Regions from separate parts of the Homo sapiens genome. Here region 1 is linked to region 2. Evidence: fine-mapped expression QTL. A gene starts in region 2. The other region holds a variant in brackets. All regions are shown on one strand. Distances are from middle to middle. Region 1 overlaps FOXN1 (forkhead box N1). Region 2 holds the start of RPL23A (ribosomal protein L23a).

Evidence for each region. PIP is the estimated chance that this variant, and not a neighbour inherited with it, causes the effect.
Region 1: its variant is fine-mapped to the expression of RPL23A in whole blood (TOPMed, PIP 0.96).

The regions. Positions count from the first base shown.
Region 1 is chr17:28,538,788-28,547,181 of GRCh38, reverse strand. FOXN1 (forkhead box N1) reads right to left here. Exons shown (of 9, transcript NM_001369369.1): 9 at 8,282-8,394. It overlaps UNC119 (unc-119 lipid binding chaperone), which reads left to right. Exons shown (of 5, transcript NM_005148.4): 5 at 1-474. Among named protein-coding and RNA genes, the nearest start is that of UNC119, 9.6 kb to the left of the region's middle. RefSeq lists an enhancer at 1-248. The variant A/G (reference allele first, on the strand shown) is at 4,531.
Region 2 is chr17:28,716,054-28,724,308 of GRCh38, reverse strand. RPL23A (ribosomal protein L23a) reads right to left here and starts at 4,324. Exons shown (of 5, transcript NM_000984.6): 1 at 4,279-4,324; 2 at 3,419-3,602; 3 at 1,410-1,586; 4 at 669-738; 5 at 1-442. The coding sequence starts at 4,303. The coding sequence ends at 428. RAB34 (RAB34, member RAS oncogene family) reads left to right here and starts at 6,441. Exons shown (of 10, transcript NM_031934.6): 1 at 6,441-7,096; 2 at 7,315-7,406; 3 at 8,251-8,255. The coding sequence starts at 7,043. It overlaps SNORD42B (small nucleolar RNA, C/D box 42B), which reads right to left and starts at 3,759; the gene lies at 3,693-3,759. SNORD4A (small nucleolar RNA, C/D box 4A) reads right to left here and starts at 1,727; the gene lies at 1,656-1,727. It also overlaps SNORD42A and SNORD4B. RefSeq lists silencers at 1-37, 6,349-6,608 and enhancers at 3,610-3,769, 4,110-4,329, 4,760-4,809, 4,466-5,067, 5,068-5,668.

The sequences.
Region 1 (8,394 bases), 180 kb after region 2:
GACCCTGAGTCAATGTTGGGAGGAAGGGTACCTGGTGTCCCCAGTCAAGCCCATGAAGCCCATGCGGCCTGCTACATGGGGTGGGGTCGTAGGGAGGCTGTTTGCCTCCACGTCTAGGAAGGCCTGTGAGAGGAGCAGTCAGGACTTCCGGACAACTTAGCTGGGCCCTACTTGGGCCCAAGTTTCAGAATAGTGTTCCCCTATCAAGGCTGTGACTAGATCAGGCAGGGATCCATTCCCTGTCCCCTGCCCACTACCTTCAGGCCATTTAGAGTTGTAAATTTACAAAGATCCACGGTGGGCTCCAGCTGCCAAGCCACCCAAGGGAGTCTGGGCCCTAGGCCTAGCCCCATCCCTCCCCATGAGGGGCCAAGACACTGCCTAAGGTGTGGGAGGGACTGGCTGAGATTGCAGCCCATGGTAGGAGCTGGACCAACTGTATATAGTTTTCAATAAACTTTTTCCTTTTCTGTTCTCTGGTGTGGCCAGCCTCTGTGTGTATGGGCAAAGAAGGGAGCAGGGATAGGCAGGAATGTGCTTAAGGCAGTAAAAATTTCTCCTACCTCCCACATTCCAGTGCACTCTCACCCCTTAGTCTTCCTGTCCCCTGATTCTCTGTACCCTGACACCATATAGAGTCAGCATTTAGAACATGATGGAGCTGGAGAGGGTCTTTCTTGTGATGAAGGAGACCCAGACCCTGAGAGGGGAAGCTTTGGCCCAAAGTCAGAGCCAACCCTGGCAGAACAGAGGCCGAAACAAAGGCCCTGAACTCCAGGGTGCAAGGGGAAGGTGTGGGGGGTGGGGGTTTGGCCTTGTCCTCCACGCTACCTTCCCTGAACCCCAGAGGCCACTAGGACCACTGGGTTGTGTTTTTAGCCCTCATGATAGACGGTGGCAGGGCTTTGGCTAAGGCCTGGAGCCATCTCCTTGCCCTCAGCTGCCTTGGGGAGCCCCCATGCCTGGGTAGCCCTGCACATAACACTGCCCTCAGCCTCCACCCCCACCCCAGACTCAGAGGAGGGGGCTGCTTAATGGAGGAAATTCAGGAACTGAGGTGGGCAGAGAGCACACCCTACAGTTTCAGGCCCTCCTTCAGATATGCCCAGAGCTGACGCACCCTCTGGGCTGAGGAGCTCTGGCCCTAGGAGGCCCAGAAGTGCTGGCATTCAGCTTGATTCTGTGAAGCCCTTGCTGGGGGAAGTGGGGTGGAGCTAGGATCTGCACTGAATTCTGGGAATTCTGAAATGAGTGAGACACAAGGAACACATACTCGTCCCTAGGGAAAAAAAAAGGACTGGGGACACGGAGAGCAAGAATCAGAGTCGTTCTGTGTGGAGGGTTCTGGGGAGGATTTTTAGAGGAGGTAGCACTGGAGCAGGTGCTTGTGATGGAAATTGATGGGGAAGAGTGCTTAGGCACAGGGAACAGCATAAACAAAGGCTCAGAGGCAAGATTTGTCAGGTGTTTGTTTGTTTGTTTACTTATTTATTTGAGATGGGGTCTCCCTCTCAAACTCCTGGGCTCAAGGGATTTTCCTGCCTTGGCCTCCCAAAGTGCCAGGATTATGGGCATAAGCCTAGGTGTGTTCAAGAGTCAATATGATGTGAAAAGAAGACAGATTGGCAGAGCCTTAGGAGCAGGGCTTCTGAGAAGTGGGGAGCCCCTGTGGAGGATTAAGTGGGCATGACCTGGTCAGATTATCTCTGGCTGCTGAGTGAATGGTGGATTGGAAAGAATGACACTAATAGCCAAGATTTACTGAGTGCCAGGCTGGGTGCTCTACATGTGTTAACTCATAAACATGGTCATTTCTGAGGAAGGCACTATTATGATGCCCATTTTACAGAAAATGTAGGTCCAGAGAGGTTAATGTACCCAGCCAACGTTGCACAGCTATGAAGTGGCAGAGCCAGGACTTGAATCCAGGCAGTCCGGCTCCATGCACTACCATACTAAAGGCAGGGGGGCAGTGAGGATGAGGAGGGTGCTGCAGGAATCTGGTGAGAGAGAAAGAGAAACTGAATTAGGTCAGTATCCTCAAAGATGGAGAGAAACAGGTGAAACTGATATTTTTAAGAGGTGAGATCCTCAGGAGTGGTGGCTGATTGGATGAGTGGGTTGGAGAGAGGGAGGAGGTGAGGCTGACTGCCTGGTTTGTGGCCTGGGTGCTGGGGTAGCTACAGGTGCCATCACTGGGTTTGGGAATGCAGGTTGGATCAAGGTGGATGCCAGCAGGAGAGGGTGACTTCAGACTGGGACATGCTGTGGCATGGAGGAAATTACCAGAAGACAGGAAAGGTGGGCCCTAAGACCAGGAGGGGAATAAGGGCTGGAGGTGGTGATTGTCGAGGCCATCGGCCACAAGGTGATTTCTGAAGCTATGATGGTGGCTGAGATCATGGGGTCCTCCACTGACACTCTTGTTATTTAGGAATGCCAAATGTCCTGCAATTACTGGGATTCTCCCAAACAATGCTATTATAATACAAATCCCCATCCCCTAATTGAGGGTGCCTGAACGAGAATGTATCACCTTAGGGAAGGCCAGTGTTTGAGAGCAGGGCGGAAGGAAAGGAAACAATGGAGACAGGAGGAGTGAGCCTCCAGGGAGGTGGGAGCAGAGCCATGTTTTGGAGGAAAGAATTTCATCACAAAGCAAGTGGGCAGGAACTATCAGTTGCCACAAAGGTAAAGAAGGAGAATGAGGACAAGAATGTGGAAGGGAGGGATTTGTTTGCAGATGAGGCTGTACAGGTATGAAAGAAAGGCCAGTATAGGGGTGATTTTGCTGTTGTAGTTTATGGGGTTACAAGTCTGCAGAGAAGGTATAGCAAGGAAGAGGACCTTTTCCCAATACCCTGATAATAGTTCTACTCACTGCAGCTGCTAAGTAAAACTGGGTTGAGGTTCTAGATTGGGCCTGCTGCACTTCCATCTTCAGAGAGAGAGGAGGGTCCCTATTCTGAGGTTCTCATCTCTGAAGTAGGCACCCAGTTGGCACTCACCTTGAAAAGAGGCCTGCGTTCCTTGGGCTTGGAGGAGCCTAGGTTGGGAAAAGCCTTGGCCCCATGCCTTCTTTTAAGTCTTCATGCCTCTGGCACTAGTCCTATTGCAAATGGTACATCTTGCTGCATTTAGTTCCTGGCACTGTCCCTAGGAACCTAGAGGCTGCCTGGGAGGAAGACAGGGTGGAGGTGGGGCTAGTCTTGGCTCTGATGTTGATGAGCTGTTGACCTTGAAGGGGCAATTCCCTTTTGTCTCTGAAATGGGCCAGTCATTTTTGCTTTGACTCTTTTTTTTTTTTTTTTTTTTTTGAGAAGGAGTCACGCTCTGTCGCCCAGGGTGAAGTGCAATGGCATGATCTCCAGGGTGCAGTGCAATGGCATGATCTCGGCTCACTGCAACCTCTGCCTCCCGGGTTCAAGTGATTCTTCTGCCCCAGCCTCCCAAGTAGCTGGACCCATTACAGGCACCAGCCATCATGCCCGGCTGATTTTTGTATTGTTGTAGAGACGGGGTTTCACCATGTCGGCCAGGCTGGTCTTGAACCCCTGACCTAGGTGATTTGCCCGCCTCGGCCTCCCAAAGTGCTGGGATTACAGGCCTGAGCCACCGTGCCTGGCCTGCTTTGACTCTTTAGGGGTGTCATGAGGATCCTGCCCCTGGGTAGAGAAGGAAAGCCCAAGTACCACAGGGAAACCCACAGCTCGTGCCCTCCTGGGCTGGCCGGCAAGGTGCTCACTGGGACTGCCAAACCAGTGGTTAAAATACTAAGATCTTCCCTTCCAGCTGTTAAAAAGCTGCTGTCCCAGGCCGCCCTAGCCTGGCCCCTCCCCTAAGAGTCACCCTCCACTTCCCCACCATCTGGCAACTAAAGCAAGGACATTACCCTTTTTTTTTTTTTTGAGTCAGGGTCTCGCTCTGTTGTCCAGGCCAGAGTCCAGTGGCACAATCATGGCTCACTGCAGCCTCAAACTCCTGGGCCTAAGCAATCCTCCTACCTCGTCTCCCAAGTAGCTGAGACTACAGAAGCTACATGTGCCACCATACCCAGCTAATTTTTTGTAGAGATAGGGTTTTGCCATGTTGCCCAGTCTGGTCTCGAACTCCTGTGCTTAAGCAATCCTTCTGCCTTTGCCTCTCAAACTACTGGGATTACAGGCCCAGCCCCTTGCTTTACTTTTCTATGTGTCACAGACTCTCTTGTTGTCAGTCTGCTAAAGCCTATGGACAATAAAAAGGATTTTAGGAACATAAAATATATTGTTATCCTATTTATTTATTTATTTATTTATTTATTTATTTATTTATTGGGATAGAGTCTCGCTCTGTTGCCAGGCTGGAGTACAGTGGCACAATCTCGGCTCACTGCAACCTCCGCCTCCCAGGTTCAAGCGATTCTCTTGCTTCAGCCTCCCGAGTAACTGGGACTACAGGTGCATGCCACCACACCCAGCTAATTTTTGTATTTTTAGTAGAGGTGGGGTTTCACCATGTTGGCCAGGATGGCCTTGATCTCTTGACCTC[A/G]TGATCCTCCTGCCTTGGCCTCCCAAAGTGCTGGGATTACAGGCGTAAGCCACCCTGCCAGGCCTATCCTATTTATTTTATGTATTAAAAACTATATACAATTGGCCATAGGTTCCGCATCTGTGAATTCAGCCAACTGTGCATCAGAAATGTCTGTACTGAATATGTGCAGACATTTGTCTTGTCATTAGTCCTTAAATAGTACAGTATAACAATGATTGACAAAGGATTTACATTGTATTAAGTATTATAAGTAATCTAGAGATGATTTAAAGTATACGGGAGGATGTGTGTAGGTTATATGCAAATACTCCATCATTTTATATCAGGGACTTACTTGCACATTCATGGATTTTGGAATTTGTGGGAGGCCCTGGAACCACTGTGAGATGACTGTGTGTGTGTGTGTGTGTATCTACAATCATGCACTAGATATCGATGTGTCTGTCATGACAGACTACATATATGTCGACAGTCACATAAGATTATAATACTGTATATATATATATATATATATATATATATATATGTTTTTTAAGACGGAGTCTTGATCTGTCTCTCAGGCCGGAGGGCAGTGGCACAATCTTGGCTCACTGCAACCTCTGCCTCCTGGGTTCAAGAGATTCTCCTGTCTTGGCCTTCTGAGTAGCTGGGATTACAGGCGTGTGTTACCACGCCTGGCTAATTTTTTGTATTTTTAGTAAAGATGAGGTTTCGCCTTGGTGGCCAGGCTGGTGTTGAACTCCTGACCTCAAGTGATGTGCCCGCCTTGGCCTCCCAAAGTGTTGGGATTACAGGTGTGATCCACCGTGCCCGGCCAATACTGTATTTTTTACTGTACCTTTTCTATGTGTTGTAGAAACACACATAGGCATTGTGTTACAATTGCCTACAGAATTCAGCACACTAATATGCCACACAGGTTTGTAGCCTAGTAGCAATAGGCTATCCCATAGAGCCTCTAGGTGTGCAGTATGCTCTACCATCTAGGTTCGTGTGAGTAAACTCTATGATGTTTGCACAATGACAAAATTGCCTAAGGACACATTTCTCAGAACGTATGTCTGTTGTTAAGCGACAAATTACTTTATGTGTGTGTATATGTGTGTGCATGTGTATATATTTGTACATATTTTGTACTATCTATAATACAATTACAAAATATCTGTGATTTCTATTGACAAAGTCACAGGTATTGCCAATGCTAGTGTGATTTGTTGCTGACATTCACAATAGAGGGAAATTCTAGATTTCAGGTAAGGATGAGAGAAAATGAAGATGTAACTTTTTCATGCAAGTTCCTGACCTGGGAATTCTAATCCATTTGAGATCTCTCACATTTAGAATCCCTGAGCAAAAGGATTAATTCCCTCCAAATAACGGACTTGAAGACGCTGCATCCATTCAGACAAATTGTTGCTCACCCTGGCCAGGTGTGGTAGCTCATGCCTGTAATCCTAGCACTTAGGGAGGCCAAGGAGGTGGCGTTGTTTGAGCCTAGGAATTTGAAACCAGCCTGGGCAACATAGTGAGACCCTACCTCTACAAAAAATACAAACATTAGGTGGGTGCGGTGGCCCACGCCTGTAATCCCAGCACCTAACAGAGGCTGAAGTGGGAGGATCACTTGAGCTCAGGAGTTCAAAACTAGCCTGGGTAACATCGCGAGACCCCATATTTACTTAGAAAAATAAAATTAAAAAGATGGTTGCTCACTCTAATAATGGCTATATGCTTGGTATGGGGTGGCCAGCAGGGGGCAGCATATGAGTGGGAGTGTGGGGCTCATTTCAGGGTGGAACTGAGGCCCAGTTAAAAAAAGTCTGAGGGCCTGGTTACACTCTCTCTCTCTCTCTCTCTCTCTCTCTCTCTCACACACACACACACACACACACACACACACACAAAACTAGACCCAAGTCCTACCTGCTTGCTACCTGTCTTCTTGCATTAGGGGCCAGTTCACACACAGGTGTGCTGAATGTGCCCACTGGCCAGAGTTTTGACAGAGGGTCTCCTGGAGGAGATGGCCTAGCCTGGGTATATAAGGCAGGTTTGTCTGAGCTCTCAGAGTCTCAGGACCCGAGGCAAGCAAATGGGTCCCAATAGGATTCTCCCAGGAAACATTTGCCCTGTGTTTGGGGGCCTGGATGTCATCAAGACACAGGCCCAGGGTTGGACAGAGCTGGTGTGCAACATCGCCTGAGGTCTTGGCAAAGAGCCTGCACCTGCTTCCTACACAGCCAGGGCCAGGCTGGGGCAGGTGGGCCTTCCTCTTGGGTGCACCCGCTGGCCATGCCTTCCCCACTCCCTATCCTACCTCAGCCCACCAGCCCTGCATCTAGCCTTCCAGCCTCTGCTGGGGCGGGTGCTGGGGTAGGTGGGGTTCTATTATGGGGTCTTTTGCAGACCTATCCTCTCAGAGGTAGGTGTTGGCTGGCCCCCTGGGCCCAGCCCCAAGAAGAGCTTTGTTTTTTTTATGAGACAGAGTCTCACTCTGTCACCCAGGCTGGAGTGCAGTGGCACAATCTCAGCTCACTGCAACTTCCACCTCCCAGGTTCAAGTGATTCTCCTGCCTCAGCCTCCTGAGTAACTGGGATTAAAGGTGCCCACCAGCACACTCAGCTAATTTTTGTATTTTTAGCAGAGGCAGGGTTTCACCATGTTGCTCAGGCTGGTCTCGAACTCCTGATATCAAGTGATCCACCCATCTCGGCCTCCCAAAGTGCTGGGATTACAGGCATGAGCCACTGTGCCTAGCCATCCAAGAAGTGCTTTCTTTTCTTTTTTTTGAGACAGAGTCTCACTCTGTTGCCCAGGCTGGTGTGCAGTGGTCCAATCTCGGCTCACTGCAACCTCTGCCTCCCGGGTTCAAGCGATTCTCCTGCCTCAGCCTCCCTCCTGAGTACCTGGGATTACAGGCGTCCACCACCACGCCCAGCTAATTTTTGTATTTTTAGTAGAGATGAGGTTTCACCATTTTGGCCAGGCTGGTCTTGAACTCCCAACCTCAGGTAATCTGCCTGCCTGGGCCTCCCAAAGTGCTGGGATTACAGGCGTGAGCCACCGTGCCCAGCCTTCATCCAAGAAGAGCTTTCTAAGCAGAGACACCACTTGTGGCTGCTCTGGGACCTGGGGATCATGTATGTGCTTTTGGCTCCCACATCTGCCCCATCTCTCTTGAGACAGTGCTGCGGTGACACCAACCCCACCTGGAGGTGACACCTAGGGGGTGAGTCTGAAGTGGGACTGAGTGAGCCCCTGACCATCCAGAGACCACTCTCCAGGACCAGCAGTGCACACAGCACCAGGGCATGCTCCATTTTGTCACCTGTGGAACTCAGGGCCCCAAACCACTTGGCATCTCTTTCAGCCAGGGACAGATTGGAAGCAGAAAGGCACAGTTTGGACAGGGCAGCAACTCCTTCTTGTGTGAGGAGATGGGGGTGCAAAGAGGGAGTGGGCAGACCTCAGAGGCAAGGGGTCTGGGGGAGGGCATCCCCTCCATTCCTCTGGCCAGGGCAGCCTCTTCCCTGCATCTCTTTGGAAGTTCTCCTGGGAAGAGGCCCTGCTCACCTGCTCCTCAGCCTCCCCAGTGGGTCAAGAAGTTTTCCTAGATGCCTCACTCTTTGGATTAGAAACTTCCTAGTTCTGGGTGAGGGTGACAGGGACGTCACAGGCCCAGGGCATCTGCCATCAGTGTGGCCTGGCCATTTTGCTTAGGGAGAGGGGCCAGAAATGAAAGCTTGGTAGTGAGACCACAAGGCACTTGCTTTATTGTTCCAGGACAGGGGACAATGACAAGCCATCGCGGGATCTGCTTATGCCTCCTATAAGCCTGGGGCCAACCTGTGGAAGTTCTT
Region 2 (8,255 bases):
CAGACCGGTTGGACATAGTAGATGGGTGTGTGAGGACAAAATGCTACCAGAGAGCCAGCCAATCCACACTCCCCTGAAATGGATGCTAACACCCTTCAAACCCTGGGCATTGGTTTCATACACAGCCTCTTCCAGGGATAAAAGGGGTTCTTGTACAGCTTGTTACTCAACCATGGAGGCAAGTTCTGAGTTCTGGTTTTCCTAGGACACTAACTCTAGTCACAAAGATCTCTGGAATGATCATACATGGTGGAGTGGCAGGGTGAGGTATTTCAAAAGGATAAGTAGAACAGGAGTCTTGCCCAAGCCCTGTCATGTCAGTGTGTGTGTGTGGCCTCCCAGCCCAACCAGAAATTGACAGACAGGCATGTATATGGTGAAAAGATATATATATATATATATTCAGAATTAGGCAGCTGGACTCAGTTTAGATGATCCCAATCTGAAAAACAAAAGGGAGCCTCGTTACTGGAGTTGAAATATGAAGATTAAGCTGGAATGTTATTTTTAGAAAGCAAAATGAGGAATGTGAGGATAAGGTTTGTCAAGGATAGGGGTGCAGTCAGTTAATTATGACTAATCAGCAAAGATCAGGCTTTGGTCGCTAACATATGCATCATTTGCACCCAAGGGGTGAGCATTAAGGGGTTTGTAGGAAGGAAACTTACTTTGTTGGCAACATCCAAAGCATCGTAATCAGGAGCCAGTCGAACATATGCCTTCTTCTCTCCATCAGGCCTAGGGTAGAGAAGGAAGCCTTAGTCCCTGCCACCCTCACTGCCCCCACACCCTCCCCCTTCCTCCTCCAGTCCTCCGGCACTTCAGTGGTTCCTTTGTTCATGTCATTCTTTTCCAATAATGATTTTTCCATCATTAGCCCAGAGGACACCATGAAGCCACAAAGCCAATTCTCTTATGGGAAACACCACAGGCCACATTAAGACTTAAACCAAGGTAATCTGCCACGTGTCGCACTCTAGTTGCCTTTCCCAATAGAAGTAGGGACCCAGAAAATGAGGACCAACCCCCAATCAAGTCCTAGAAAGCCTCAGGTCCACACAAAGGTCTGTAACTAAAGCAGCCTGTAATTCCTGCCTCAAGGCTCACACACACTGCTAAACCTACACCAAGTTTAAGTCAAGGAACCTTTTTCCCCTGCTGAAAGGTCCAGGGGATTTTTTTTTTTTTTTTTTTTAAAAAGGGCCTTGCTTGGTTGCTCAGGCTGGAGTACAATGGGGCAATCATGGGTGATTCCTGGCCTCAAGAGATCCTCCTGCATAGCTCGGACTACACGTGTAGTCCTGCATTACCAGGACTACCTAAACATCAAAAAGCTTCATGGAATGCAGGTTTTTTTGGCTCCAGACTGCTGGTCCAGCCTGCTCCCCATCCCTTGAGGCCCAACTCACCGAATCAGGGTGTTGACCTTGGCCACATCAATGTCATACAGCTTCTTCACAGCCTGTTTAATCTGGTGCTTGTTGGCTTTAACATCCACAATGAACACAAGTGTGTTGTTGTCTTCTATCTTCTTCATGGCAGACTCAGTGGTCAGCGGAAACTTGATGATAGCATAGTGGTCAAGCCTGGGAGAGGCAAAATGGGGTCACCTGGCCTGGGCCCATTCTTTTGGAGCCCAGAGCCAGGAGAGCCTAGGTGCATCAGACAACGAGGTACCAATCACTTTGTTCAGACTTTGGTCGCTTTACAGTGTCATCATCTGCACCCTGAAATCTAAGGGCCTGAAGCCCCAATCCCAGGGGCAGAACGTTGTGCATTTTCTTTCTCTTGAAGGGCTCTTACAACCTCAAGTGATTAAAGAATCATCTCTGGGCCAGGTGTGCTGGCTCATGGCTGTATTCCCAGCACTTTGGGAGGCTGAGGCAGGCTGATCACGAGGTCAAGAGATCGTGACCATCCTGGCCAACATGGTGAAACTCCCTCTCAACTAAAAATACAAAAATTAGCTGGTCATGGTGGTGCACGCCTGTAGTCCGAGCTACTCAAGAGGCTGAGGCAGGAGAATCGGGCCAGGGGCAAATTCCTTTTTTTTTTTTTTTTTTGAGACAGAGTCTCGCTTCGCCCAGGCTGGAGTGCAGTGACAGGATCTCGGCTCGCTGCAAGCTCCGCCTCCTGGGTTCACACCATTCTCCTGCTTCAGCCTGGGACTCAGTAGTGGGACTAGCGGCGCCTGCCACCACGCCCGGCTAATTTTTTTTGTATTTTTAGTAGAGACGGGGTTTCACCGTGTTAGCCACGATGGTCTCAATCTCCTGACCTCGTGATCCGCCCGCCTCAGCCTCCCAAAGTGCTGGGATTACAGGCTCGAGCCACCGCGCCCGGCCAGCCACGAGCAAATTCTTATGCATAGGTGAGGTTAAGCCACAGCAGTGGCTTAAGCACAACTGTAACACAGCTTTCCCCATTTAAAGTCACACTTGATTCTAGGTCCAGCTTGGTGGCGGGAGGGGCAGGAAGACAGTCTGTGAACTGCTTTCCTATATGAACACAATCCACTTTTTCTGTTAAGAAAGAGTAGAAGCAGCAAAAACCCATTGGTACTAACTACTACCATGGCTCTACTCAAATCTGTGCTCCCTAAAAAGTCAGTTATTACCGATAGCTCAAATACTCAAGTGCCCAACCTTCTGCCCATTCCCCCCCAACTGTTCCTTGAGCAGTATGAAAATTCGGGAAAATGAATGGAAAGAAGCTTCTATACACCGCAGCAGGCCATAACTGCCAAATACAGATAATGGAATCCCCACTATCAATCAAGAATCAATCCACGTTCTCACCCTCAAGGATTGTTCCCGATAGCAGTAGGAGCTATGAGCAAGGAATCTCTGTATTCTACTTTATACTCCCCCCAAAATAAGTTTTCAAACCGTGACCACATGTGAAGCAATAATTAACCTAACAAATTTTGAGAGACTCAGGGTTTTTTTTTTTTTGAGACAGAGTTTCACTCTTATTGCCCAGGCTGGAATGCAATGGTACGATCTCCGCTCACCGCAACCTCCACCTCCCGGGTTCAAGCGATTCTCCTGCCTCAGCCTCCCGCGAGTAGCTGGGATTACAGACATGCGCCACCATGCCCGGCGAATTTTCTATTTTTAATAGACGCGGGGTTTCTCCATGTCACTCAGGCTGGTCTCGAACCCCTGACCTCAAGTGATCCGCCCCCCCTCGGCCTCCCAAAGTGCTGGGATTACAGACGTGAGCCACCGCGCCCGGCCTCTGGGCTGATCCTGCCAGTTTTGTAAATGCAGCAGAAACAATCTCCTCATACTTCCAATTAGAGAAGCACACTGGACACAATTTGCGTTTGAGAAACCATCACGCAGAGTGAGTGAATTTCCAAATTACCAATGGAGAATACCCAAATCTTTTCATGGGTACAGGGGGCAGTACTGACTTGTTTCTCCTGGGAGCGCTCTTCCGAGGATATTTGGGCTGTCTCCGGAGTCGCAGTGTCTTCGGCCGCCGGAAGGTGGGTGACGTGCGGATCTTCTTCTTTTTGTGGCTGTGGACACCTTTCAACACTGCCTTCTTGGCCTTTAAAGCCTTCGCTTTGGCTTCAGCTTTAGGAGGGGCAGGAGCTGGGAGAAAAGGAAAGAAAACGTGGGTGCGGGATTTAGAAATCGGTCACTTCCGGCCCCAAGAACTGCAGTGGGCCACCCTGGCCACAGGTGCATCAGTGGTTCCTTTGAAGACATCACAAGTGTCAGGAGATTAAAACTTTTCCATCATATGCACGATACCAGAGGCGAAAGCGACCAACTCTAAGTAACTCCAGGGATACGACTATGAAACAAAGTAGCACTGAATGAACGCTTGATACTTTCCAGAAAATGTCCTACGAATTTTACACATACCCCATCGCAAAACCACGCTGCGGAGAGAGGGGCGGGTAATGTAGCCCGGTTGAACATGAACCAGAAGGAAAATGGTTAAAGCTGAGGGCACTAATTCCTTACAGGCCCGGGGACATGGAGCTCCAACCAGTGGATGCATGTAGCTTCCCAGAACCGAATGTCTGGCCCTCCCTGGCGGATGATGCCTGCCGCGTTGCCCCCCCCCAACTCCCTCTACCGGAACTCAGCCCACGAGGCTGGGCCCACGCGGCCCACGTATACTGCAGCGTGTCCGAAACGCAGGGAGCAGCCCCGGAGCAGAGCCCTCAGGGCTTAGCCCAGCAGCCGTGTTCCCAATTCGTTCGCTCTGCGGCGCGGCAATCCCCGGTAAACCAGCTGCGGCCCCATCACCAACACACACCTTCCTTCTTCGCTTTCGGCGCCATCTTGTGAAAAGGGTCTCCAATGCTCGTTCCCACGGGCTTATAGCGCCAAAGAGCACTAAAGACTCGCGATGCTTTGTACTTAGAGCTGATTGGGTAATTTGCAGAGCGGCGCCCTCTGGGAACGGTAGTTAGGTTTAATTTCTTTTTCGTGCGTGAACAAACATGCGCCACTCCTCCCCTCAAAGGCACTAAAGCTTCATGGGGGTTGTAGTTTTTTGTTTTTTGTTTTTTGTTTTTTTTTTGAGCGCTCTGTCGCCCAGGCTGGAGTGCAGTGGCGCGATCTCGGCTCACTGTAAGCTCCGCCTCCCGGGTTTACGCCATTCTCCTGCCTCAGCCACCAGAGTAGCTGGGACTACAGGCGCGTGCCACCATGGGGATTGTAGTTTTTTGAAGACACGCGTTTATTTGCTCAGGCCAGCGGACGGCGTAGCCGGCTGGCGCTCGGGTCTGGTCCCGGGAGCTTCCTATCTTGAGCAACTGCCAGTCTCAGGGAAGAGGATTGCCATGCCAGGAGGCAGGAACGCTGCCAAGAGGAAAGAACACATTTGGATTGACTCGGGAGTTAGATACAGCTAAGTTCTAGAGTGCTGGAGCAGGATTTGCTCGGTCGAACTGAGGTCCAGAGAGGAATGTGGTTTATCAATAACACAGTGATTTGGTGGCAGAAAAAAATCAAGTCAGGGCCGGGCGCGGTGACTCACGCCTGTAATCCCAGCACTTTGTGAGGCCGAGGTGGACGAATTGCTTCGAGCCCAGGAGTTCGAGACCACCCTGGGCAACACGGCGAAACCCTGTCTCTACAAAAGAATACAAAAATTAGCCGGGCGTGGTGGTGCGTGCCTGTAGTCCCAGTTCCTTGGGAGGCTGAGGTGGGAGGATCGCTTCAGCCCTGGAGGTCGAGGCTGCAATGAGCCATTCCAGCCTGGGTGGCAGAGTGAGACCCTGTCTCAAAATAAATAAATAAATAAATAAATAAATAATCGAGTCACGAGGGGGAAGTGTCAGAGGAAGTACAAGGCGGCCACACCTGCCCCTCTTTACCTGCGACACTGATACTGTCAAGTTTTACTGCGTTTCCTGATAATGCATTTGAAGTTCTATGAAAATTCCACACATTTCTCCAAGATTCGCTAGTTTTTCCGGTTAGTAACTTCACTCACAATCCCCTGCCCTAAACTAGTCTTCCCTTCCGTGTCCTGGTCATCTTTACATCCTCAAATTCAGCTCCAGACACAGAGAAAGGTTTCTTAACACTCAGGTTCGCTTCTCCTAAGGTGTGTGCCTAACCCATCCCCACTTGATCCTTTCTTCTTCCCTCTCCCTTCATAAAACCAGACATGTCCCCTTTGACGGTGAAATTGATTGTGCACTGCCCCCTCTTCTATCCTGCAGGACTTTGCACAAAGGAGTTGTCCCTGGGGGATAGATTCCAATGGGGCCAGAACAATGAACACCCATACCAGAGGGGAGTCCCCGCCTCCCAGAGCGGAGACCACCCCGAAGAGCAGAGTTTCCGGGTCCACTTAGCCCTTCTTTAACCTCCCTCGAGGGAACTTGATCTTCAGCCCTCCCACCTCACAATCTACACAGCAGCCTTGAAGGAAAAGACGCCAGACTTCAGACGTCTCTCTCCTCGGTGGGCACCTCATTCTAACCCTGGCACCCCCTTCGCACGCTTCCCCTCCACCATCCTCACCCCCGACCTCCCAGGGCAGAAGGGCGAGAGGGGGCAGACTCTATGAGTCACCTCCCAGGCCTGGAGTTGAGGAGGGAAGCGCCGCCTCTCCTTGGGCCCCTTCTCTCCCCCTTTCCCCTCCCTGCTGGTTCCTGGCATCGCCAGATGCTGCGCAGCAGTCTCCGATTCCCCATCACCAATTCGGCTGGGTAAGGGTCCCCATGAAGGCGCAGCCGGGTATAGAGGTGCAGGGGAGAGCAGCCTGGGGAGTCCCTATCTGGATAGGCTCCAGCCTGGGTCGGGGCGGTCCTGGTGCCCGGTGAAGCGTCAAAAGAGGGAGCCTGAGCGGGGCAACGCAGAAGGGTGGAGAGGAGGGGGTGGCGAGGGCGGGCAGCGAGGCCTGGAGCCGCCAGGAGAGGGGCGGGGGGCGGCCCTTCTCCAGGAATTTCCGGGGATCGTGTTACAGCGTTGGCGGAGCCCGAGCGGAGTGGGACTCGAGGCCCTGTAGCCGGACTGGGCCCCTCGCCCCCTCCTCCAGCGGCCTGCGGGCCTTGGCAGCGCCGCCCCTGCCCACACTGACCCCGTGTGGCGGGGCCGCTCCGCGCCCCCGGGCCGCTCTGTAATGGTAGGGCAGCCTCAGCCCCGAGATGACGTCGGGTCTCCGCGGCCCCGGGTTATTGTAGGAACCATCCGGCCCCGCGTAATCGTAGGAACTATCCGGCCCCGCGTAATCGTAGGGTCTGCGCGGGCCCGGCCCCCACCAGACGGGACTCCCCGCCCCCAATTGGCGGCCGAAGAGTCTCCTCGCCCCAGAGTCATCTTCGGGACGCCCAGGGCCCGGGTGATTTTGGGCTCGCCGCGGCCCCGGGTGATTGTTTCATCTCCGTGGCCCGCGGTGGTCGTAGCGTCTCCGAGACCGCGGACTCCCGTAGGGTCCCCGTGGCCCCGAGTTGTAGTCGGGACACCCCGGCCGCGGGTGATCGTCGGGTCTCCACGCGCCCGGGTCGCTGACGCGGATCCGGCCTCGGCGCCTTCTCAGGGCGCCCTGCAAGGCCGCAGGCAGGATGAACATTCTGGCACCCGTGCGGAGGGATCGCGTCCTGGCGGAGCTGCCCCAGGTAGGCGCCGGGGCCACGTCGGGCTTCAGTCTACAGCCCGGGGTGTGGGCGAGGAGGAGGCGGCACCAGACCAGTTAGAGGACTGGGCCCAGCCCTGCCACCCAGCTAGGCCTGGTGCTTCTGGGTGGTCCCTGCACTCCACCCCTACCCGGGCCGCTTGGCTGCGGGACAAGGGCCAGGAGTAGGAAGCTCCATTCTCTTCCATCCTTCCCACTAAGTGCCTGAGGAAGGAGGCCGCTTTGCACGGGCACAAAGACTTCCACCCCCGCGTCACCTGCGCCTGCCAGGAGCACCGGACAGGCACCGTGGGGTGAGTTAGGGACACCCACAACAAAGAGAGGAGGTCCCAGGAAACTCTGTAGTCATAGCGAGGGTAAACAACCACCCCCTTGGGGCTTCATTTCAGCCCCTACCAGCTATATGGTTATTTCCCCCTCTTTAAGCCCCTGTATCCCCTCCTTTTCTCCCAACAAGGTTGTTGTGAGTTCTATGAGATGGGGTTGGGTAGAAGGGTGGCAGCTGGATTTCTGAGTAGAGACTAAGGTGTCTGAAATGGGAAGGTGGTCACCTGCTCAGATCCCCACATAGCATCCATGGAGCCCCAGGGCAGGGGTCTGGCTGTGCTTACAGGGATGAGTCTTATTGTGGGTTTTAAAGGTAATACTGATAACAGTTGGCACCATTAATTAAGCATTTGCTGTGTGCCAGGCAGTGTTGGGTACTATCATCTTTATTGAATGGAAAAGTCCATCACTTAAGATATATCCTGATTTCAGACATTAAAATGCGGGGGGGAGGGTGTCTTAGAATATAGGACATTTATCTCATTTTAACCTTCACAACGACCCAGTAAAATATATACTAACTTTACTTAAATGTTTAAACTGAGGCTTAGAGAGGCTAAATAACGTGTCCAAAGTCACACAGCTAATCAGTGTGAGAGCTGGGATTCAAATTCATGTCTCTCTGCTTCTGGAGCACAAAACACTCCTCCTCCCCAGCACACCTGTCCACGCAGCTGCCTGGGATGCCTGGTGTCTATAATACCCTCAGCCTGGGTGCAGCTACCTTTCTGGACCTAGTCGGGAGCATTGGAACTCCCTAGGGTGAAAGAGCTCGTGCCCACTCCCCTTGCCCACTCTTGTGTCCAGCAGATTTA